6 separate regions of the Homo sapiens genome follow, and all the other regions are reported to be linked to region 5. Evidence: microRNA targets listed by miRTarBase, many of them from high-throughput screens and not tested one by one. Region 5 holds a microRNA gene; each other region holds the end of a gene's coding sequence.

Region 1 (3,000 bases), not on the chromosome of region 5:
ATTTGCAGAAAATGCAGAAGATGCTGATGGAAAAGATGTATTTAATACCAAATCTGTTGGGCTTTCTATTAAAGAGGCAATGACTTATCACCCCAACCAGGTAGTAGAAGGCTGTTGTTCAGATATGGCTGTTACTTTTAATGGACTGACTCCAAATCAGATGCATGTGATGATGTATGGGGTATACCGCCTTAGGGCATTTGGGCATATTTTCAATGATGCATTGGTTTTCTTACCTCCAAATGGTTCTGACAATGACTGAGAAGTGGTAGAAAAGCGTGAATATGATCTTTGTATAGGACGTGTGTTGTCATTATTTGTAGTAGTAACTACATATCCAATACAGCTGTATGTTTCTTTTTCTTTTCTAATTTGGTGGCACTGGTATAACCACACATTAAAGTCAGTAGTACATTTTTAAATGAGGGTGGTTTTTTTCTTTAAAACACATGAACATTGTAAATGTGTTGGAAAGAAGTGTTTTAAGAATAATAATTTTGCAAATAAACTATTAATAAATATTATATGTGATAAATTCTAAATTATGAACATTAGAAATCTGTGGGGCACATATTTTTGCTGATTGGTTAAAAAATTTTAACAGGTCTTTAGCGTTCTAAGATATGCAAATGATATCTCTAGTTGTGAATTTGTGATTAAAGTAAAACTTTTAGCTGTGTGTTCCCTTTACTTCTAATACTGATTTATGTTCTAAGCCTCCCCAAGTTCCAATGGATTTGCCTTCTCAAAATGTACAACTAAGCAACTAAAGAAAATTAAAGTGAAAGTTGAAAAATATCCCTGAGAAAAAAAACTGAAAATTACTTACAAAATTGAGTAATTTTCCTGGAAGCGAATTTAGTGTCATTCCTCAGAGCATACGCAATTTCAGTGTAACTGTCTGTACTTCAGCCTGCAGATACTGACATTGGATTGGTGCCTATGAAGAATGTCATGTCATTTAATTGTGTTGTTTCTCAGTTAATCAAGCTCCCAGCTGCAATTTGGATAAAAATGTAGTCCTGCTGGGTCAATGAGTTCTGTGGAAATTTGAAGAACTTGTTTTGGCCATCTGGCAGTTTCACTTACCTGAGTTGAATCTGTTCTGTATTTTGTTTTGTTTTGTTTTGTTTTTTTGACACAGAGTTTTGCTCTGTCGCCCAGACTGGAGTGCAATGGCACAATCTCGGCTCACTGCAACCTCTGCCTCCTGGTTTCAAGCAGTTCCCTTGCCTCAGCCTTCCAAGTAGCTGGGATTACAGGTGCCCACCACCACACCTGGCTAATTTTTTGTATTTTTAGTAGAGATGGGGTTTTGCCATGTTGGCCAGGCTGGTCTCGAACTCCTGACCTCAGGTGATCACCCGCCTCGGCCTCCCAAAGTTCTGAGATTACAGGCATGAGTCCCTGCGCCCAGCCTGTTCTGGATTTTGTTTCCTTGTACAAGTTCAGGGAATTTTCCCATGTTCACAGCTGTACCATATCTGTTTTCAGTGTGGAGGTCCTAACCTATCTACTTTGCATTACCATACCTTTTCCCAAATTTCAATGGCTACTCAGAAACTTAATCCAGTGGTAAATGCAATAGCTCCTGTACTGATAAATGTGTGAAATACTTAGAGCTGACTTGTTCTGCAATCTGGCCAGCACATGCTGTGAGTCCGCATAGAGTGTTAGAGCATGACATTTTAGAGATCAATATTTCTTGTAACTGGCCTCATGATGGTAATGGTCTCCCACAGCTTTAGCAAACCAGAAAGAAAATTTCCTTAAGATGGCCTTGGGCTTGAAGTTATTGATCCTCAGGGTAGTGTGTAAAACTTTGCTTTATTTCTGATTATTCTCATTGAGGGTTTTGGTTAAGATGAAGCGTTATTAGTTTTGAAGAATAACAAAACCCCTTTATGAAGCCCCCTAATATGTGGTCTCAGATGCAATTACTACAATCAAATCATGTTCAATGTGAGTACAGTAATAAACAGTATCTCTCAGAGTGTGACACAGCTTATCTGTCACCTTGCCCCCAACACCAGTATATTTAAAATTTTTCTATTGCATTTATCATCTTCACTTACATTAGTACATCAGAGTATCATCATAAACATGTCAGAATGCATTGCATTGTGTGTTTTGCTAATGAGTACTAAGGTAACATTGCCTTTTAAGCCAAATTGATGCTCTTGATTGTATCTTTATACATATTTTTTTTTTTTGAGACGGAGTTTCGCTCTTGTTGCCCAGGTTGGAGTGCAATGGCGTGATCTCGGCTCATCCCAACCTCCACCTCCCGGGTTCAAGCAATTCTCCTGCCTCAGCCTCCCGAGTAGCTGGGATTACAGGTATGTGCCACCACGCCCAGCTAATTTTGTATTTTTAGTAGAGACAGGGTTTCTCCACGTTGATCAGGCTGTTCTCAAGCTCCTGGCCTCAGGTGATCCGCCCGCCTCGGCCTCCCAAAGTACTGGGATTACAGGCGTGAGTCACTGCGCCCGGCCGATACTGAGTATTTTTTTAACGAAATGTTAGGTGTCTCAAATAATATGCTGTCTCTCTGAACTTACTTGCAGCCAGTCTTGCAGATAAAATCTGAATCAATAACAGAAAATAGTACTACTGAGGTTGTGGTTACAGATTTGATCACCATATATGTCTGTTAGCTTTACATAGAAAAATAATATATTCAGTAACCGAAAACAATAACCCTAACCCCACTCATGATGAGAGAGTTGGAAAAAATGGAGGTCTGATGGAAATTGATCGGGATTGTGAATATACTCTACATACGGCTAGTGGCTGTCATATTGGACAGCACAGGTCTAAGCAATTCTAAGTGTAAGATCCCACTCCTGGCTGAGATGTGAATAAGAGAAAACTTGAAGTTTCCTCTAAAAGTTGTATTTGTTTGTCTGGTTGTCTCAAATGCAATGGAAACCACAGCATGACTTTTAGCAGGCCCCAGACCATTGCCTTGTGTGAGTTCAATCACTGAATCTTCCTTTT
Region 2 (5,072 bases), not on the chromosome of region 5:
CAAAGGAGGGATTGTTGCAGTCTTTGACCGCCCTTTTATTTGCTAGGAATAACGGCCTTATATTCTGGACTGAAACCTACTATGATTCGAGCATTCCCTGCCAATGGAGCACTCTTTTTGGCCTACGAATATAGCAGGAAGTTGATGATGAACCAGTTGGAAGCATACTGAAGTGTCTTGGTGGGCCTGAGCCAAGCACAGGTGTTTGAGGACTACAGTTCATCTCAGGGTTTCTTGGAGTACAAGACCAGTGTGAAGTTATTCTGATTTCTTGGGAATTTTGCTTTTTGTCTTCCCTTCTACCCTACATCTTAAACTTTATGGAAGAACCTCTATTTTGCATCATATCATTTCTGTCCATAATTGTACTGAAATAGAAAAGTGACCGCTCTTGCTCTTGGTAAAATATAGAGTGGTCAGTAGCCTTATGCACCTAATTCAAAAGGTGGAATATAGTTCTGTCAGGGCTTTTACGTAAACCTCCACTTGTACATGCAATTTGGACAGTTATGTGTTGAGGGAAATACAGTTTGGTACCTTGTTTATTTCAAATATCAGAAAAACCCAGAGGTGATCATTTCTCATGAAGATGCTTATAAATGGTTGCTTAACCCATTCTAGATGTAGGGTCTGCTTAATGTGTGTACTTTTCTAAGTGGTTGATTATTTTTTATTTTTTTGATACAGAGTCTCACTCTGTCACCCAGACTGGAGTGCAGTGGCACGATCTCGGCTCACTGCAACCTCCGCCTCCTGGGTTCAAGCGATTCTCTCACCTCAGCCTCCTGAGTAGCTGGGATTACAGGTACGCGCCACCATGTCCAGCTAATTTTTTTTGGTATTTTTTGTAGAGACGAGGTTTCACCATGTTGTCCAGGTTGGTCTCGAACTCCTGACCTCAAGTGATCCGCCCACCTCGGCCTCCCAAAGTGCTGGGATTACTGGTGTGAGCCACCATGCCCAGCCAGTGGTTGAATTTTTTAAAAAGTGTTCATGGGGTGCTTGAAAACTAAAATATCCTTCTAGATTTGTAAGACAGTATACCTGCATACTGGTGTGGCTTCCACACTTGAGTAAAAGCTTCAGAGTAGGTATCCTAGATTTCCCCAAGATGCTCTACTCTTAAAATAGTGCCATTCATTTTCTAGGTGGGATCATATTCCACGCTGACTATATTGCTAGGGGTGGCCCAGAGGGTCAGGCCTTTGGGAAATAGCATGGCCTTTACCAGCTTCCCTTCTCTCCCAAAGAACTTCCCTTCTTGGGCTTTAGATTGAGGAAGGGGCTGAGTGGTAGGCGGTGCTGCTGTGCTCTGATGAAGACCCATGTGGCTAGCAACAGCGCTTACCTTTTGTCTCTGGGTCCTGGCCTGGGGCCATCAATCCACTTTGGGCCACTCACTGTCTGCTCTGCCTCCACCAATCAGAAACCCTTCCAAGGAACAGTGAGAGCCAAAGCCAAGAGAAGCCTTCTTCCCTGTTTGGTGATTGTGTGACAGTGGGTGAACCTCTCTCAGAGAGAACTAGAAAGAACTCAGTGCTTGTACTCCACAGTGAGTAATGTCAGGTCTGACCCATCCTGAAGCCTGTCTTGCCATGCTTTTACAGTGTTGGAGGCTTCTACATTTGGTACTTGCAGTCAGTAAGTCTTAATGATGACTGTATATGTGATATGAGTTTATAAAGCAATGGAACATAAGAAAAGCAATTGTAGGCCAGGCGCAGTGGCTCACGCCTATAATCCCAGCACTTTGGGAGGCTGAGGCGGGCGGGTCACAAGGTCAGGAGTTCGAGAACAGCCTGACCAACATGGTGAAACCCCATCTCTACTAAAAATACAAAAATTAGCTGGGCGTGGTGGCACGTGCCTGTAATCCCAGCTACTCAGGAGGCTGAGGCAGGAGAATCGCTTGAACCCGGGAGGCAGAGGTTGCAGTGAACTGAGATTGTGCCACTGCACTCCAGACTGGGTGACACAGCGAGACTTCATCTCAAAAAAAAAAAGAAAAGAAAAGCAATTGTACTTCACTATGCCATATGTATGTATTCACTGACCAAAAATTCACTGACCAACCAACCAAACTCCACACTTCATCTGATCCCCCATAGACTTGGGGATGGACAGCTGTTCTTTGGCCATATGGTATAAGAGGATCATTCTTGTCACTACTTAAGTTAGCCTCATCATTTTGTGCTGCTCCAACACCAGCAGGGTATCTCCCAATAAAGTGTTCCTAAGCAGCCTGTATACTGAGTGCAAGCAGGCTATCAATTTTAATAATAGTCCATACCATGTATGTGTTTCTGTCAGCAGAATGTACATGTTGTACAAAACCTCCAGGTTCCTTAAGCTTTTTGCTGTCCATGAATCCTCTGTGGCAACTGTAATCACAGAGCCAGAAGCCAGAGGGCCAGGGATATGAGAGGCTGACAAACATCAGGGGACATCTGGGGAGGAGATCCCTGTCATGTCTCTTGTGCCATGGAGCTATTATGGCTGGTCTTCCATTTGCTTTTTCTTTAAGTGAAAACCATTTTTCTACTTTGCTTTTCTCTCCATACTTAAATGGTCAGTAGCTACTGAGTGGTGCTTTATCTGAATAGGCCTGGATCGAAGTAAAATAGAAATGGGACTGGCTTTCCACAGGAAGTAAACTGCTTCAGAGCCCACAGTCCCCTGCTCAGTGTCCGGAAAGAAGTCAGTCATCCCTGTTGGCAGTAAATCTTCCCACAGGCCGTCCATTAGAGATTTAACTAGATATGTTCAATAGAAAGAGTCTGAGGCAAGTGGAAATGAGGAACGGAAACTTAGGTTGGGAGAATATTTTTTTTTTATTCATTCTGTTTGCTTAATTCAGAGTACAGTTTGTGCTATTTCATATCTGTACTCCAGGCAGAAATATAACTTGAAAATACTGTGTCTAAAGAAATTTCAGTGTTCTATCATTAAATTATTTACTTAATATTTGAGTCTGATGAATTTCATTGAAGTTCTTTACATCCATGTTGGGAAACAACTGTCAGGAATGTTAAAGAGTTATGTATAGTAGTGTTTCAAGGCAGTGGTTTTATTGCAACAAGCATTGTTTTCTGTCAGCAAGACACCTCATGTAAAATAATTTCACCATAGGTAAGGTGACAAAAATATTTCTATGCTCTGAAGTTATGGAACTTGGCTCACTAGAATTACTTTCTCCCTCCACCTCTTTCCCTCTATTTTAAAAAATAGTTAAACTGTCTGCTTTTAAGTTTTGGATGATTCCATTCCAAGTTACTAAATTCTACTTAAGAAAACAAGTATCTGAAGTGCCAAGATGGCTGACTAGAAGCAGCTAGTGTGCGCAGCCTTCACAAGAGGAGACAGAGTGGTGAGTGAACACAAGCTCTTCAGGTTGATCATCCAGCAGGCTGTGTTGGGATTCATCAGGGAAGCTGTGGTGAGTCATGGAGAGCATAGGGGAGTAAGGAAGGACAGCTGTCCACCTGGGATTGGTGCAGAGCAAGGGGAGGCTCCCTACAGCAGGGAAAGTGTGAGTGAGTGAAGGCTCCTGGGGACTCACACTTCTGCCATGGACCTTGGCAATCCCCAGGCACAGGAGATCCTCCATGACTCCACCTGCCCTCCCCCCCCCCCCCCCCCACCCACACACACACACACCCTGGGGTTCTAGACTGACACAGAGAGCTGCTTGGAGTCTGGGCAGAGCCACTGCTCAAGCCAATGTGGATCCCTGAGCTGCTATGGCCCCGGCTGCCATAGTCCGGCCAACAAGGTAGGCCAGGCTCTCTCGTGTGCCCCTAGGATAGGGGCCATATCCATGGTGCTGAGGAGCGGACAGATTGCAGGCCTCACTTCCACTGCACCTTGCCAGGCAAGGCCCACTGGCCTGGGCCTCCATCGCAGCCATGCTACCCACTACCTGAGCACTCCAGCTAGTCACAGCCCTCATTTCTCTGGGATGGAGCTCCCAGAAGTAACCAACAGGCCCTCTGCCCTGCCGTAGCCTGTGCCCCTGCTGCCCTCAGGCTGGAGAGGGAGCAAAAAGCCCAATAGCGGTCATGGGCCTCCAGCCTGCTATAGCTGACATATGGAAAGGCAGCCCAGACTGTTTTCCACGAGTCCCTGGCCCTGCTGCTCACTGGGCAGGGTGCCTCCTGGCTTGGGCCCCCAGCACAGCTCCTGCCTGATCAGTTGGTGGTGGCTCTGTGTTTCTCTGGGATGGAGGTCCCAGAAACAACTGACAGGCCTCTGCCATTGCTGCCACCACAGTACCTGCCCTTGCTTCCCCCAGGCTAGGGAGGGAACAAAGGGCCTGATTACTTTGTCAGCATTCTACAGAGAGGAGGCCAGACTGTCTTCCGGGTTGAGTTGCCTGACCTCCCTGCTCTTCAGGCAGGGCCCCCAGCTTGGGCCCAGCAGCACAGCTGCCCCAACCCTAAGCTGAGGAGGGAACAAAAAGCCTGAGCTTGCACTGGGGCTGCAGTGTGGCAGCTTGGAAGTGCCAAGGCGAGATCTGTAGCAGGCACTAGAGCAGGAGAGGAGCCCACACTCTCAGAGTACTGAGAGTGCTGAGTTACATGAACCTGTGGGCTACCACAGCAGTGGGCATGCCTCCCTATGCAGGGCCAGCTGTCTGGAAAAGGGATGGCCTATCTCCCTACCTCAGCCTCTGCCTGAGGGAGTGCACCTGACAAAAGAAACACGGGCACAGTGCCATTGGTTGGAAGGGGCTCCCCCAGGGCCCAGGAGCGGACCTGATGAGGTGGTCACCTCTCTTCCCACCGCACCACAGAGCACAGCCAGAAACACCAGGAAATCCAAAGGAGCAAAGTGGCTAAGATCTGTCTACCGACCATTACTCCTAAGCGCCATCTACTGGAATTCAGTAGATGTAGCAAACTACAAAAATAGTTTGCTAATATACCTTCCTGTAAAACCAAGGTAAGAATTCAACCACAAATGCACAGAGCCTTGGCCCTCAGAAAACATGAAGAAATTCAGCCAACTGACTGTACTCAACTTACACCACAGTTAAAAGAATACCAACCCTCAGATGAGAAAGAATCAGCACA
Region 3 (5,177 bases), not on the chromosome of region 5:
CTCAGGACACAGATTTGAGGACTGACCCAGAGGTCTTCAAATGGAGAGAATCAAGCTTAGTCTTGATGGACACCATCAGAGATGTCACCTTTAAGCATTTATCAGAGTTACCAGTTTACATTTTTGTAATTTTTTTAGAAATGCTTGTTTCCTAGTAGAATATCATTCCACTTGTATCCTACAGTGAGTGACATCTGATTACTGGTTTCTAGACTTTTGAGACCAGTCTCCTAGGGAGGTGCTGGAGACAACCTCTTCTCAACACTGCTGAGGAGTGTGGGACAACCTCTGTAAACAAGAGACCTTATTCTTGCTGCTCCAGGAACTACTGGAGGCTGTCACGACAACTATGGTCCCTCAGGCTGAGCTCTAGGCCCAACATGTAGTCATGATATCTAGGCCACAAGACTTGGCCCACAGAGCTCTGTACTCTTTCCAGGAAGCTCTTGGGCAACAATGCAAATGAGACCATACCTGAATTTTGACCTATTCCTTACCATTCTGCTGTCCTTTCTGAAGCAAAGTCAGGACTCCCCACAAAAGCCTTCCCTTCTCTATTAAACTATCACCAGTAAATGACTGTGACAAAGCACCAACTGAAGCACACGCCTTGGGAGCACAGGTGGCTCCTGCACTTGGTGCTTAAGGCGAGCAGTGCCTGATACTGTTCTCAATCCATCCCATGCAATGAGCAGGAACCCCAGGATTGAAGTGGCTTAAACTCTTTGTCACACAATCCAGGGCAGTGTAAGGCAGGCAACTCCTGGGCTAGAAGAGTTGGAAACTCGATGAGTCTCATACAGGCATCATGTGTGGGGCCAACAATATCCATGAGAAAGGGCAACCATCTCTGGAAGCCCTGAGACCCCATCTCAGGTGCTCTTGGCCAAGGTTAGATCATGTCCTTACCTAATCCATCAATGGGGAGGCAATGAGGGCTCCCAAAGGGCTTAAACAGAGTGGTTACTTTTTTAGCTTGTTATGTAGAATTCAAAAAAGCAGATTCAGTAAAGGTTCTGTGATAGGCTGAAAAAGGGCCCCCCAAAAGACCCACGTCCTATTCCCTGGAACCTGTGAATGTTTCCTCTTTTGGCAAAGCGTTTGCAGATGTGATTAAAGTACAGCTCTTGAGATGTGGAGAGGATCCTGGATTATCTGGGTGGTCCCTGAATGCAATCACATGTATCCTTACAGAAAGGAGACAGAGGTAGACTTCATATACACAGAGGAGAGGGTGATGTAAAGATGGAACAGAGAGATTTGAAAATGTTGGCTTTAAAGATTTGGGTGATGTGATCACAAGCCACCAGAAGCTGGAAGAGGCAGGGAATAAATCCCTCGTGGAGCCTCTGAAGGGAGCTCGGCCCTGCTGACACCTTGAATTAACCTAAGTGTTACTGATTTCAGATGTCTGGCCTCCAGAACTGTGAAAGAATACATTTCTGTTGTTTTTAAGCCATCCGATTTATGTAATTTGGTATAGTAGCCACAGGAAACTAGAACAGCTTCTTCTTAAAAAGCGCCTGGGTAATATACCAAAAAAATTAGCCAGGCGTGGTGGTGTGTACCTGTAGTCTCAGCTACTTAGGAAGCTGAAGTGAGAGGATCACTTGAACCTAGGAGGTGGAGGCTGCAGTGAGCTATGATCATGCCACTGCACTCCGGTTTGGATGACAGAGTGAGACCCTGTCTCAAAAATAAATAAAAAGGTCCTCCAAGGTCACCCAACTTAGCCCTTCATAGCTACAACCTTTTTCAGCATTTCTCCTTCCTACATGCCTACTGCCAACTCAGACTCTGCTTTCTAATGATGCTCAGAAATCTGGTATTTAACTAAAGCCAGATTGTGAGAACAGTAATAATAAATGAAACCTCATCTTCCAGGAGAGAACATTAGGATCTAGCTGACCCTTCATCCTGACCTTCCCAGCCCTCACCCACACTAAGCCCCTTCCATTCAACAGCTCAGCATTTCTCAAAATGCGGTCCAAGGACTGCCTGCATTGAATCACCTGAGGCACTTGTTAAAGATGTAAAGTCTAGGACTCCATCTCAGACTTGCCAAATAAAAAGTTTAGGGGTGAGATGCAGAAATCTGCACTTTTTTTTTTTTGAGACAGAGTTTCACTCTTGTTGCCCAGGCTGGAGTGCAGTGGTGTGACCTCGGCTCACTGCAACCTCTGCCTCCCAGATTCAAGCGATTCTCCTGCCTCAACCTCCCAAGTAGCTGGGATTACAGGTGCCCGCCATCACATCCAGCTAATTTTTTGTATTTTTAGTAGAGACGGGGTTTCATCATGTTGGCCAGGCAGGTCTCGAACTCCTGACCTCAAGTGATCCACCCGTCTCAGCCTCCCAAAGTGCTGGGATTACCGGCGTGAACCACCAAGCCCAGCCTGAAATCTGCACTTTTGACAAGCATCCCAGGTGATTGTTAGCCCACTGATTCATGAGAACCTCCACTATAGAAGAAGGAGCCAGAAGTGATCCAACAGTACTTTCCTCCATGGCTTGATGGCGAAGCCTCTGACCCTGGGCCAAGTGCTAAACTTTTCTGGGGAAAGCTACTGCCACGGCCCCCGGTACTGGGTGCTTGTGATGAATGTCAGGCAGAGCTCATAAGGAAACCAAAAGAGTCCTGTCCCCTCATGCCTTTCATGTTGCAAAACAGCTGCGAAGGCATTCCAGGAGTTGAGGACCACAAATTCTTTTGAGAATATGAGTCACCATTAGGCAATTCATGTTAATTCTTTAATTAAAAAGACCCTCACTAAACAATAATAGTTTACAAATGCATGTACCTTTTGATCCTGCAATTCCACTTTTGGGAATTTATCCTAGAGATACACTTTATGCTTGCACATTTGTACAAGATTATTCACTGCAGAGCTGATTGTCATTGCAAAAGATTGGAAAGAATCCAAATGCTCATCATTGTGGAACTGGCGAAATAAATTATAACACATTTATACAATGAAAAAAATGAACAAATGGCATATGAATTGATATGAAATGTCTCCAAGATAGATTGTTAAGGGAAAAAAGCAAGGTGCAGAACATGTGTATAACGTGCTAACTTTTGTGTATAAAGAGAGAATGTGAGACTCTACATTCCCATTTGCTTGTATATCCATAAAGAAATGCTGGATGTACGGATGAGAATAGTGGTTACCTCTAGGCCAGGGTAGACAGGAACTGAGCAGGTGGAGAATAAGGATTGGAGGGAGACTTTTCACTCTATATATCTTTTGGGTGTGGAAACATGTGAGTGTATTATTTATTTTTGAATAAATAATACAATAAAATATAAAACATACACTTATTGTGGCCCTCTGCACAAGCAATCTGGTTGTGCAGAGTCTTGGTGTCCCCTGCTAGTCTTAGTACCTGTATAGAGCTCTTCAGACTGGGTGTCGTGTTGCAGAGGCTAGCACCATTCCTGATGTCACCCTGGGTGAGACGTGGTCCTCAGAATCCAGATTTCCTTTTTTGTCTTTTTCCTTCTTCCACATGTTCTAAGAAAACATAGATTTCTGGCCAGGCATGGTGGCTCACGCCTGTAATCCCAGTACTTTGGGAGGCTGAGACGGGTGGATCACGAGGTCAGGAGTTCGAGACCAGCCTGGCCAACATGGTGAAACCCTGTCTCCAGTAAAAATACAAAAAATAGCTGGGTGTGGTGGTGCATGCCTATAATCCCAGCTACTCAGGAGGCTGAGGCAGGAGAATTGCTTGAACTCGGGAAGCAGAGGTTGCAGTGAGCCAAGATTGTGCCACTGGACTCCAGCCTGGGTGACAGGGCGAGACTCTGTCTCAAAAAAAAAAAAAAAGGGAAAAGAAAATGTAGATTTCCATTGTCCAAAGTGACAGCGGGAGGATGGGTCTTGAGTTTCTCAGGTTGGAGAAGCAGCTCCACGAAGGTCCTGAGCTTGGGTCCACTGTACATGGGACAGCTCCAAAAGAGGAAGGTCCCAGCACTGCATCTAGTAGTGAGGCATCAGCTGCTCCCGGTTCACGAGGGAGGAGTGGTGGTAGCGATCCCGAGTGGCGAAGTCTGCATTCTCCTGGGTGAGCTGAGTCATCTCCATGTCAACCTTAGCCAGGGACGGCGCCAAGATGATCTGCTCCTGAGGGGACCGCAAGCTCCTGCAGTGAGAGAGACACAGAGGATGGTGAGAAGGACAGAACAGAGACTGAACAGTAGAGGTGAGTCTACTGGGCATAAAGAAATTATCTGTAAACACACATGTATTTAAATGTTTAAAACATAATTCTTGAAAGGTATATGTACAGGTATATATGAACTCAAAGCATGAGAAATACAAAGTATCAAATAAAATAAAAAGAGACAGAGAGAGTGATATTTACCCTCCCTAAGTAGAAAAGTATAAAGCTGTACCTACCTGATAGGAAATAACCAACAAAGAGAGGTTTTGCCCTCCAAATGGTATCATGTTGGGGCTCTGTAGCTTTTCTTTGCCTTTTTTTTTGTCAAAAATAATGGAATGGAGAGGCTGGAAAATTGAGAAGAGCAGAAAGAGAAAATTCTCGTAGGTCTATTGAAAAGAAAGTTGAATAAGGAGTGATTTCAAGAGCTAAGGCTCACACAGCAAGCAGCTAAGAGGGACTGCAAAGGCTTTTGACACCAAGGTGGCCTCAGGTGAAGAGCAAGTCCCATATGGATCCCACTGTCACTGGAGTCTCTGCATACAGTTTCGGTTGGAATAAACTGGGAAAGAAAAATGTTAGGGATGCATAGGGAAAGTGCTAAGAGGAAGAAAGGAGTGAGGAAAGCTCAGGCTGGCTGTCCAGGCAGCTGCTACGGAAGGCAGACCCAGTCACAGCTCCATCCCTAATCAGCTAGGTGGCCTCCAGAAGCCTCTTTACCTTCTTGTGTCTCTATTTTCTCATCTTCCCGGGTCTCTTCCAGTTCCTATAGTCTGTGTTAGGTCTGTAAGTCATACCTTAGACATGGATTTCCTCTTAAAATTTTTACTCTAAAAGAATCATCTACTTTATGAGTAATAAGTTTCAATTGTTTGAATATGGAATACATTTGAGAGTTGCGAAAAGGTAGAAATCTAATGTTATTGATCTGTGGAACTTAAACAGAAAGTTTCAACGGACTCTGGCCAAATGTCCTGCTATAGAAGTTCAGATCACATGACTATGGCATT
Region 4 (3,000 bases), not on the chromosome of region 5:
CGGGGTTTCACTGTGTTAGCCAGGCTGGTCTTGATCTCCTGACCTCAGGTGATCTGCCCGCCTCAGCCTCCCAAAGTGCTGGGATTACAGGTGTGAGTCATTGAGCCGGGCCTTTTTGTTTTGTTTTGTTTTTTGAGACAGTTTTGCTCTCGTTGCCCAGGCTGGAGTGCAACAGCGCAATCTCAGCTCACCGCAACCTCCACCTCCCAGGTTCGGCCTTCCAAAGTAACTGGGATTATAGGCATGCACCACCAAGCCCAGCTAATTTTGTATTTTTAATAGAGATAGGGTTTCTTCATGTGGGTCAGGCTGGTCTCGAACTCCCGATCTCAGGTGATCCGCCCACCTAGGCCTACCAAAGTGCTGGTATTACAGGCATGAGCCACTGCACCCAGCCAGGAAAATACATTTAAACTCAAACTACTGTATATATACTTCGTAGACTCCATGAAACCCATCCAGTGAATTCTTAGAGGTCCAAGACCCCTGATTAATAACTGTTGGCTGGGCGCGGTGGCTCACGCCTGTAATCCTGGCACTTTGGGAGGCCAAGGTGGGTGGATCACTTGAGGTCAGGAGTTCAAGACCAGCCTGGCCAACATGGTGAAACCCCCATCTCTACTAAAAATACAAAAATTAGCTGGGTGCGGTGGCGTGCACCTGTAGTCCTAGGAGGCCGAGGCAGGAGAATCGCTTGAACCTGGGAGGCAGAGGTTACAGTGAGCCGAGGTCGTGCCACGGCACTCCAGCCTGGGCAACAGAGTGAGACTCCGTTTCCAAAAAAAAAAAAAAAGAACTGTTGACCTATACTTCTACCAGATTCCCATTCCTCCTGCTGTCAAAGAGTCTGCAGCACCCCGCTTCCCACTTTCCTTCTCACACTTGGGGCTACACCAGTAGAGAGGTTGTATGTGCTTGAGAAGGTGGGAGTCTGCTCTGCCTGTGGCCTACTAAAGAGTCTATACTTCTTTAATTATTGCCCTTGTTTTTAGTATTTCAGGGTTGGTCCACAGGACTCAGGGAAGGAGAAAAAAGTATAAAAATTTCTTTTCTTATTACAAGAATTCCAAGATGTGTCAGAGTTGACCAGAAGCATAGAGAAAACTACATAGTCGAGTACCCACCAGGGGAATGTGGTAGAATTGGCAGTCTGTTGGTCTCTTTGTAATGTCAGATTAAAGAAATCACCTGGAGGCTGACATTGGCCCCTTCCCTTCCCAGGAGGCAGATCTGGCCTAAATACGGAGATGCGTACAAAGAAGACCTAGGATCACAATCGTTCTTAGCCATCAAACTCTTCTTCCAGGTCCTAGAGAAAGTGGCCACTCTATACCAAAGCCAAAGAACTGCAGAGTACTCCTCTTGGTTGGGGTTTCATATTGCTCTTGCAATTCAGTTTCCTCTCATCTTTGCTGTCATTTCGTGGGTACCAACAGCCTTGGCCAGGTGTGAGAAGTGTCCATTACTATTGTTTGCTCTGACTATCTTGCGCAAAGATGCCAAGTAAGGCTGGAGCAAAGGCCTTGGTGATACTCTTGCCTTGGACAGATAAATGGTGGTAGTGTAGCTAGTCCCTCAGTTGCACCTGTTTGTATTCCAAAGGCAGTAAACACAGATGTTCAGAAGCCCTTTATAATCAAGATGTCAAATATCTGAAATTATTCCCCAGCTCTGACAAAACTTGCCTTCTGGGTGTGGAGACAAAACAAGAATTTGTGACTACTGCTGATCACATCTAGAACTGCCTTGAGGCTGGCCATGAAGACTTGAAACCACAATTTTCACTGAGGATCTAAACCTCAGATCACATTTGTTTGGGGCTACTGTGGGGTAAGGGGATATTAAGGATGTAAAAGGGATGTTGCAAATGCTCATGAGACCAGGTTTTGTGGCACGCTAGGGCCACCACTAATTCTCCATGATGACTTCTCCACAGGACTTGCTTAAGCACAGGCACAGGACCCACCAATAATCAGATGTGCACTCTACACAGACTGCACCCACCGAGAACAGGTCACAGTCCTGTGACACAAACCCATATACACAACCGAGAGGTTGGCATTTTGGTCCATGCTTATTTAACAAATTCCCTTCTGCTGTGGGCACTAGGACAGGGGGCTGGCAATACTCAGATGAGCTGTCCCACCCCCAAGTCCAAAGCAGCAGCTCTCAGGCCTCCTCTGCTGCCTCATGCCATTCCAAACATGATGGCTGGGCTTACACACCTATCTTACTGGAAGCCTCCCTCTCTGTGTTCCCTTTCCACCACTATTCCATTACTTCCACAGGAGCTGGAGGCTGCCCCATCCACTCCAAGCCAGAGAACAAGCAGAGGCTGCCACAGGAGATCCTGGGCAAGTAATCAGCCACAGCATCTAGATTAGCATGAAGGAAACACTGGCCAAATTAAAAGATGAAACTTCCAAAAGGTAAATCTCTGTGTATTCATGCCTAATCTTCCAAGGTTGTGTAAATAATTTTTTTCTACCATCCCCCATCATTTGCATACATTTTTGTCAAGTCCAAACATAATTTGAAGTGAGGTAGGTAGTTTCTCTCTACTTGTGCCGTTGTCCTTGGGGTGATGTCGGGGCCTGTGCCCTGAACGCACTTGTCTCCTGTGCAGGGGCAGTGCCAGGGCTGGCATCAGTGGCTGGTGGAGCTTCTCAGTTGGCTATTTTCTCAATCTCGTCCAAATCATCTGTGTCCAATCTTTCTATCTTCTTATCTGGGGGAAAGATACACAGGTCTCTACCCTGCCCAGGAATGTGCCCCATCTTGGGCCACAGCAATCATTCATTCAGCCCCAAAGGCTCCGGGTGCCTAAGCAGGGGGCAGCAGGGCCCCTAGTCACTGACAGCAACAGTCAGAGCCCCACGCCCCGAAGCCCAGTCACAGGGGAGCTGTTCTTGGAGTCCCTGGGTCCTGAAGTCTCCAGGTGTGCTCCCTGAGAACTGCCATATGGTCAGAAAGGAGGGGAGTGTGCTAGGGACAGAGCCT
Region 5 (5,068 bases):
CGTCCCGGGCGCGCGGGCGGGTCCCAGGCTGGGCCCCTCGGAGGCCGGGTGCTCACTGCCCCGTCCCGGCGCCCGTGTCTCCTCCAGCCCGTCGGAGCCCTGCTGCTGGAGCGCTGCAGAGTCGTCCGGGAAGAGCCCGGCACCTTCTCCATCAGTGAGTGGGGCTAGGGAAGCCAGCGGCGCTTCCCGCAGCCCGGGGCACCCGCAGCGCCGCACTTTCCCCTCCCCGGGCGCCCAAGGTCTCCTCTGTGTCCCCAGCCTGGCGCCACCCTCCTCAAACACAAGAGTGCATTGTCCACGGGCAGCTCAAGGTCAAGTTCTCCTGGCGGGCACCACCCTTCCCACCTGCCGAGTCCACTTAAGCTTGGGTCCCTCCCAGACTCTGCTCTTTGTTCCCTGTGGGCCCAGGCTGTACTTACAGGGCAGGTGGGCCAGCCCCACCCAAAGCGTTTCCCCAGCTGCCAAGAGTAGCATGGGTCTAGCATTGTTATATGGCCCCGGGCTGGAAATCCCAGGTGGGGGTAGGAGGAGTGAGAGGGGGGTGTTCTCCTGGGTCTTAAGAGATTCCCTTCTGCGGGGAAAGATGGAGTCCCTGCTAGTTTGCCCAGAGTGGCTGTCAAAATTCCACAGGCCAGGTGGCTTAAATATCAGAAACATTCTCTACAGTTCTGGAGGCCAGAAATCCTAGATGAAGGTGTGGGTGGGGCCGAATCCTTCTGAGGCCGAGGGGAATCTCCCAGTTCCTAGTGGTGGCCAGTATCCTCCAGGTTCCTTGGCTTGTGGAAGCGTCACCTTGTCCTCCTTGCATCACGTCTGTGCCCACATTTCCCCTTCTACACAGACGCCAAGCAGAATTTAGGGCCCACCCTGACAACCCCTTTTTACTTCACTTTATTATTTTATTTGCTTATTTTTTGAGACAGGGTCTTGGTATGTCGCCCAGGCTGGAGTGCAGTGGTGCAATCTCGGCTCCCTGTAACTTCCCCCTCTCGGGTTCAAGTGATTCTCCTGCCTCAGCCTCCCGAGTAGCTGGTACTACAGGCACGCGCCACCATGCCCAGCTAATTTTTGTATTTTTAGTAGAGACGGGGTTTCGCCATATTGGCCAGGCTGCTCTCGAACTCCTGACCTCAGGTGATCCTCCCACCTCGGCCTCCCAAAGTGCTGGGATTACGGTCTTGAGCCACCGTACCCGGCCCTCTTTATTTTTGAGACAGGATCTTTTGTTTCCGAGGCTGGAGTGCAGTGGCGTGATCACAGCTCACTGCAGCCTCAACCCCCTTGGCTCAAGCAGTCCTCCCACTTCTGACTCCGGAGTGGCTGGGCCTACAAGGCCCCACCACCACACCTGGCTAATTTTTGTTTTTGTAGAGATGGGGATTTTGCCATGTCACCCAGGCTGGTCTCGAACTCCTGAGCTCAAGCAATCCTCCCACCTTGGCCTCTCAAAGCGCTGGGATTATAGGCATGAGCCACCGCACCTGGCGACAACCTCATTTTGACTAGTTTATATGCAAAGACCCTGTTTATATACAGGGCCATACTCATGGGTTCTGGGGGGTCAGGACATGAACACATCTTTGTGGGGGCCAGAGAAGGGACAGTTTATGGGCAATGGCAAGAGGAAGCTGCTTGTGGCTGTGGGTAGGACCGACCACAGGTGTTCCATCCCCAGGCTTCATTGAGGACCCTGAGAGGAAGTATCACTTTGAGTGCAGCAGCGAGGAGCAGTGTCAGGAGTGGATGGAGGCTCTGCGTCGGGCCAGGTGGGGCCAGGCGGTGGTGGGCACTGCTGGGGTGGGCACAGCAGCCATGCAGAGCGGGCATTTGACCCCGTGCCACCCTTTTCCCCAGCTACGAGTTCATGCGGAGAAGCCTCATCTTCTACAGGAACGAAATCCGGAAGGTGACGGGCAAGGTGTGTGCAGGGCTGCAGAGGGCCGGGGTGGGGCTGCAGGTGGCAGAGGCAGTCCTCCAGCCCTGGCTCATGGCCACCCGTCCTCCCCACAGGACCCCCTGGAACAGTTCGGCATATCCGAGGAGGCCAGGTTCCAGCTGAGTGGCTTGCAGGCGTGAGCGCAGGGCACGGTGGTCAGCGTGCAGCGGGACGGGACTGGCCCTGCCCAGCCATGAATCGCTTGGCCATGCCTGGATCTGTTTTGTTTTGGTTTTTGGTTTTTGGGTCAGGGTTTCACTGTGTTGCCCAGGCTAGAGTGCAGTGGTGCCACAGCTCACTGTGACCTTGACCTTCTGGACTCAAGTGATCCTCCTGCCTCAGCTTCCCAAGTAGCGGGGATCACAGGCATGAGCCGCCACACCCGGCCATCACACCTGGATTTTCAGTGGGAGGTTTTTGGTTTGGAGACATCCAAAGCCTGAAGCCAGGTGGGTGTGGGCAGGGGCTGCATTTTATGAAACTGCCCAGCAAGCTGCGCTCCCTGGGGCCCCAGGATCCACCTAACTGGCCTGGCACCTGGTGCCACGTGCTGCTGCCGCCAGGATATGCGCCTTCCCACAGGTGCCCTGCCTGAGTTGTGTGCATCCAGGGGCCTGGTGAGCCCCCAGGCTGGTGGCATGGCCCCCCTGCCCCGTGCTGAATGAATGTACAGAGCCAGACAAAGCTGTGAATGGCCTAGGGGCTGAGTCCCACACCAGCTGTGAATTCTCCTGCAGACAGGAGGGCCCTGGCTGTGCACCTGGGGAAGTGGTTGCCCTGGGGCCAGGGTGCTTGTTCTGTTCAAATAAAGGTACCTCTTTTCCACACTGGATGGCGGTGAAGTGAAGGAGAGGGGAGGGGCAGCCAGGGAGCCCCCACCCAAGGGAAGTAAGGCTCAGGGTCCTGAGAGGCAGTGGCTGGGCCTCCTGCACTGAGGGGAGAGCTAGAACCCCCAGCCAGGACAGGTGGAGGCTGGGACCCAGGCCTGGGGAGAACAGAGCTGCTGTGTGGTATCAGGAATCCTGTGGTGACCTGGGGTCCTGCCTCTGGCATTCACGGGCCCTCCCGGAGTGTGGCTGGGGCCTGGGCGGGCTTTGGTCCATCTGATGTGAAAAGGACTTTGCCGATGTCATTGGGGTCGCAGATCTGGTTTTCCGTTCATCAAAAGGCACTTTGCCTGTGGCCTGGTGCCCTCATAAGCCTCCCCTTGCCTGTGGCCTGGTGCCCTCATAAGCCTCCCCAAGGCCAGGGTGTCCTGGTGTCAGCCCCCGGAGCTTCTGCTAGGAGCACCCCTAGGCCCTCCACTCCCCGTTTCGGCGATGACACACTAGCCGGGGCCTCTCACTGGCCGCCAGGAGACGCCTCATGCCACCTGGAAGAAAGGCTGCCATTCACACCAGGTCCGAGTGAAAACAGTCTGTTTATTACAGCGTCTAGAGGTGGGGATGCAGAATGCAGGGGTGCCCAGAGGAAGGGGCGCCTGCAGCCCAGGGGCGGACCGTGACAATGCGCGCAATCCAAATACAGTTCACCCGGAAGACACGGCAGAGCCTCCCACGTTACAAAGGCTGACACAGACCAGCAGCGTGTTGTGTTGGGAGGGGGGTCTGACCACGATGGCGAGGGCAGTCGGCGGGGGGTGGGGGGCCTGCTGACCACTGAACAGACTGACGCATCCTGGGGGCAGATAAATTAAGGGGGAAGTCTTAAATAAGTCACTGTGCGTGCCTCATGGGCCGAGGAGGGGGTATCCTAGTTTTTAGGGTTCCTATCAATTCCTGAGCAAGAGCCACTCCCAGGCGCCGCCCGCCCACCCACAGTCAGCAGCAGCAGCACAGGTCCCCGCCAGCTGCCCACGGAAACTCAGGCCAGGTGCCAGCACCAGGCTCCAGATCCCCAGTCTCCACAGCCACCCTGCCACCCGCCACACACCACCCCTCAGTCTGGGAGTGTCTGAGAAGAACACAGGCCCAGGGCTCAGAACAGGAGGGTGTCCGCAGGCAGCCACCACACTAGTTCACGTGTGGTGACACGCATATGACCCAGTGGGCTCAAGGAGACTTCTGCCTGGGCCAGTGGCTCTGAGACCCAGTGCGTGTCCTGAACATACGGTGGCCTGCGTGGGCAGGAGCCCTGCATGGCCATCTGCAGGACCCGTGATGGCACCCGGACTGCCACTGTCACCTAGAGGGAGGCAGAAGTAATACAGTGTTTAAAGAATGTGTCTTGTTCTAGACCAGGGACTCGGCCGTCTCTGCCATCAACCCTGTGGCGTATCCGGCCCGTGGCGACACAGAGCAGGCTGCCTGTCCTGAAGGCCAGGCTCGGGGCTTGGGGCTCAGGCAGAGGCACAGCACCTTCTAGCTGAGAGCACCAACGTGGGGTGGGGAGGGCACTGGGCACCACTTAAGAGGACAGGTCCGGAGCACCATCTTCAGAACTCAGCTATGTTGGAGGGTGGGGGTCTGAGAGGTTGTTGGGGGCTGGGGGAGGCAGCACCCCCCTCACCAGGCACAAGCAGGGGTCTTCAGGCCCTCCCACACAGGACTCCCCCACCTAGCAACCACAGAAGCCTTTCCTCCGTGGCTCCCTTTGGAGGCCACGTGGTAGGGATGTGACGTGTGTCCATCCTGCCCTTGGGAACCAGAACACAGGGCTGGCAGCTCCCTGGAGGGTGGATCTGTGGCACCTTGGGGAAGGGGCTCCCCGATGCCATCTCACAGGAGCAAGCACTTGAGAAGGTGGGCTCAGCAAGTGCCACACAGCCCAGGGCCAGATGCGGGGAGCTCAGACTCCCAGATCCCATCCTCCAGGGAGGGCACAGAGCCACCACTGCTCAGACAACCCAGGCCCTGACTGCTCAGGGCTCCAGAAGCACTGGAGTGGCCCTGCCTGCCTGCTACACCCCGGCCTCAGCTCCTCTCCTTCCACACCCAGTCCCAGGCACCCGCCAAGGCTGCAGAGTGGGGGGCCGACGTCACCCTGGGGCCTAGGGCCAGAGAGGCCAGGTTTCAGCAGTGCACCCTGGCCCCAGCACACCCACAGCAGCTGGGAGAACCAGCACAGGCTCCAAGGGATGGGTGCCAGGCGTGGCCCTGACAGGAAGGGATGTGGGGCAGGCAGGGGCGCCGG
Region 6 (3,000 bases), not on the chromosome of region 5:
CTTAGTGATTTACTTATGAAATGACCGCTGTGCCCTTACTAAAGGATACATCCTTTCATCTCTGGAAATTGTGATTACAAATGATTTCTTTAAATTGTTCTTTGTCTTTTTAGGATTTCCTGAGAAGATAACAGTGAAACAGCGTTATCGCCTACTTGGAAATAGTCTCAACGTGCATGTAGTAGCTAAACTAATCAAAATCTTATATGAATAATTTTGAAATAACTCTGAAAGATGGTCATATGATATTCCTTCATTTTCAGAGAGTAATTCTGAAATTCTGTTTTGAACTAATTCTGGTGAAATTTAACTAAATTATTTTAATCTGTCCTTATTAAGAAATTTGGATTTTATTAAAAAAATCCATGTGTTTCATCAAATTTATATTACTGTATTTTATAAAATACGAACTATTGTTATGCTTTATGGAGAGTATATTTTCATATGAAACTGATAAATATATATGTGGAATATTCTTTTTAAAAACAATTTTATAAACAAATCAAGGAGCACTAGAGCTTTAGTGTCTACATGAGTATCTTGTGAAGTGTCATAACAGGCATAACATATTTTTATGTTAATTAAAGAAGTTTTTTATTTCTAATTTTAAAATAATGATTCTAATTCTAGCCCATTGAATGTTTTACTTAATTTCCAATCCTGTAAATATTTCTTTATTTCATCTAAACAAATGCATATGATATGTAAACCAAATTATCATCATTCAGTTTATACAGCAGACTGAAGAATATGTCAGGAAAAATAATCCTAAATGTTTGATTACCTCTCCATGAAGCGGCCACAGAAACTGTTGGTGCACATTATCTACATTTTCCTCAGCCTCTATCTGAAGGACAAAACTCATTTTTCCTTCTTCATTTTGTATGTACTTTCCTTTAGTTGACTATTATCAAAGCTTGTTTTTGTCTTCTCAGCTTCTGAGTTGAATTTGCCTTTGCACGCTGAGGAATGTAGCATGACGTTAAGATTTCAGGGAGGAAGCTGCCCTCTGATCCCATGTCATATGACAGTACTCCCCTCCCCCCAGTTGTTCTTTATTGTAGCAACATACACTCTCAATGAACTTTTATGACTTTTAACTTTCTCTGTCTCTCTTCCTCAGCAGACCTCTTGGAATTAGGGTTTCTAATCAAACTAAGTCTTGCATCATAAATTCTATGGTTTGTGATAAAAGCAAGTGACAAAGAGAAGAGAGATGAAAAGAAACAAGTCCAGAAATCATATTACAAGATTTTAATTCAAATTTTTCTTCTTAAAAATCAGCTATTTAGAGGTGGATAAATTGGAAGTTTGTGCATTGCTTGTGGGAACGTAAAATGGTTCAGCTGCTGTTGGAAAACGCTATGGAGGTTCGTCACAAAATTCAACATAGAATTACCCTATGATTCAGCGATTCCACCTCTGGCTATAGATCCAAAAGAATTGAAAGCAGGGACTTGAACAGATATTTGTACACCAGCGTTTATAACACCATTATTTACAGTAGCCAAAAGGTAGAAGCAGCCCAAGTGTCATCCCATTCACCCATGAATGGATGCAGGAATTGTGTTCCGTGCATGCAGTGGAATAGTACCAGCCTTCCGCAGGAAGGAAATTCTGACATATGCGGTGACATGGATGAACCTTGAGTACATTATGCGAAGTGAAATAAGCCACCCTGTGGGGATGGAGAATGGGTAGTTAGTGCATAATGGATACAAAGTTTCTGATTGGGGTGATGAGAAAGTTCTGGAGGTGGATGGGGAGGATGGTTGCACAACAGTGTGAGTGTACTTAATGCCACTGCAACTGTATATTTAAAAATAGTTAAAATGATAAATTTTACATTATGTATATTTTACTGCAATTGAAAAAATCATACTCTATTACCAATTTTTCAGAACTCATAGATAAATATGAATGTAGGGAAGCTGTAAGCCAGCCCATATACAGAAACTATCACTATCTACATTTTTCATATGTGTTCAGACAGAGCCTATTACAAGTCTCATAAATTTCAGTAAACAATCACAAATTATTTTGGCACACTTTCATGTAGGTTCTGTTCACTGCTGAAATATTCTAAATAAAATGGTTTAGAGTTTTACTGTAACTATGAATAATTATGCTATAATTATAGTATCCCACATTCGGTTGAGCAACATTATACAAAATAAGTGTCGAGTTACTGTGCACCAACTATAAATACTTGAAAGGTCTGTAGAGACATTTGCTTACAAACTGGTAGACAGAATGTAGCTTAGTGGAATTCTTAAATTATGGGAATGTATTCACAGGAAGACGGTGATTCTTGCCCTTAATTCATAATTGAAAATATGCAGTAACAAGCATAAAACTCACATCTTAATGAAGATGTATCTACCAGTGTCATTCAATTAGCAGATGTATATGTATGCATAATTAATTTGGAAAATGTTATTTTATGGAATGTCTGCTATATGCTTTTGGTAATAATGCTGTATATAAAATTTGCACTGGAAATTCTGTTTCCTGATATTTGGACTTGTACATTTATTCAGATGTTGGAAAACATAGCTTCTCATTTTCAGGAGAACTATGTGTAATTCAGTCTTCACCATACCTTACAGTAAACCGATTTTTCGTTCTCCTTTTCCCATCATCCCTGCTCTTTTAAACGGCTTGCCAGATAATTGTAAGGTATTTATTACCCTGCTTCATATTTTTAGTATGTCTTCAGGATCCAAAACTAATTCTAAGAGATGACCAAATCAATTAATGTAAACAAAATGAGTCATAGTTGGAAAATGATTTCGAAGAGGTGGGTAGTCATTGTAGGAGGGGTCAGAGCCTGACAATCCTCAGTGGCAGGCAAGAAAGAGGAATGATGGCATCACCTTCACAGAGGACCCTGGCCATGGTGTTCTGTCTGTGAAATCAGACCTTCACCATGGGCACTGCCCTATGTCTGGAAAGATGAGAAAATACCTCCAACCTTCAGCCAACTTATTCTTCCTCAAA

What was found. The annotated mature microRNA hsa-miR-1227-3p reads CGUGCCACCCUUUUCCCCAG and lies in region 5 at 1,835-1,854, shown strand. An mRNA with a match to its seed (bases 2 to 7 or 8) in the 3' UTR can be bound and repressed. Matches are read on the target gene's strand: a 7mer-m8 pairs with bases 2 to 8, a 7mer-A1 pairs with bases 2 to 7 and ends in A, and an 8mer does both.
Region 1: miRTarBase lists C1GALT1C1 as a target of hsa-miR-1227-3p. Seed matches in the 3' UTR shown: 7mer-m8 at 376-382.
Region 2: the mRNA of SLC25A15 is a reported target of hsa-miR-1227-3p. Seed matches in the 3' UTR shown: 7mer-m8 at 719-725 and 7mer-m8 at 1,857-1,863.
Region 3: miRTarBase lists SLC12A8 as a target of hsa-miR-1227-3p. Seed matches in the 3' UTR shown: 8mer at 3,770-3,777.
Region 4: miRTarBase lists DDX19B as a target of hsa-miR-1227-3p. The part of its 3' UTR that is shown has no 7-base or 8-base seed match.
Region 6: the mRNA of TRDMT1 is a reported target of hsa-miR-1227-3p. Seed matches in the 3' UTR shown: 7mer-A1 at 2,042-2,048.

Annotation. Positions count from the first base shown.
Region 1 is chrX:120,623,472-120,626,471 of GRCh38, reverse strand. C1GALT1C1 (C1GALT1 specific chaperone 1) reads left to right here. Exons shown (of 2, transcript NM_001011551.3): 2 at 1-798. The coding sequence ends at 262. Among named protein-coding and RNA genes, the nearest start is that of C1GALT1C1, 5.1 kb to the left of the region's middle.
Region 2 is chr13:40,809,497-40,814,568 of GRCh38, forward strand. It overlaps SLC25A15 (solute carrier family 25 member 15), which reads left to right. Exons shown (of 7, transcript NM_014252.4): 7 at 47-2,964. The coding sequence ends at 171. It overlaps MIR621 (microRNA 621), which reads left to right and starts at 1,270; the gene lies at 1,270-1,365. It also overlaps the pseudogene TPTE2P5.
Region 3 is chr3:125,079,907-125,085,083 of GRCh38, forward strand. SLC12A8 (solute carrier family 12 member 8) reads right to left here. Exons shown (of 14, transcript NM_024628.6): 14 at 2,738-4,146. The coding sequence ends at 3,984. LOC124906278 (a long non-coding RNA gene) reads right to left here and starts at 2,160. Exons shown (of 3, transcript XR_007096045.1): 1 at 1-2,160.
Region 4 is chr16:70,333,249-70,336,248 of GRCh38, reverse strand. It overlaps DDX19B (DEAD-box helicase 19B), which reads right to left. Exons shown (of 12, transcript NM_007242.7): 12 at 944-2,728. The coding sequence ends at 2,667. DDX19A-DT (DDX19A divergent transcript) reads left to right here. Exons shown (of 5, transcript NR_039997.1): 3 at 2,289-2,429. Among named protein-coding and RNA genes, the nearest start is that of DDX19A-DT, 12 kb to the left of the region's middle. RefSeq lists an enhancer at 2,470-3,000.
Region 5 is chr19:2,230,848-2,235,915 of GRCh38, reverse strand. It overlaps MIR1227 (microRNA 1227), which reads left to right and starts at 1,767; the gene lies at 1,767-1,854. PLEKHJ1 (pleckstrin homology domain containing J1) reads left to right here. Exons shown (of 6, transcript NM_018049.3): 3 at 88-154; 4 at 1,676-1,766; 5 at 1,855-1,918; 6 at 2,011-2,763. The coding sequence ends at 2,076. MIR6789 (microRNA 6789) reads left to right here; the gene lies at 1-87. It overlaps DOT1L (DOT1 like histone lysine methyltransferase), which reads right to left. Exons shown (of 28, transcript NM_032482.3): 28 at 3,338-5,068. RefSeq lists a silencer at 1-146 and enhancers at 172-780, 783-1,362.
Region 6 is chr10:17,146,254-17,149,253 of GRCh38, reverse strand. TRDMT1 (tRNA aspartic acid methyltransferase 1) reads left to right here. Exons shown (of 11, transcript NM_004412.7): 11 at 114-3,000. The coding sequence ends at 214. Among named protein-coding and RNA genes, the nearest start is that of CUBN, 18 kb to the right of the region's middle.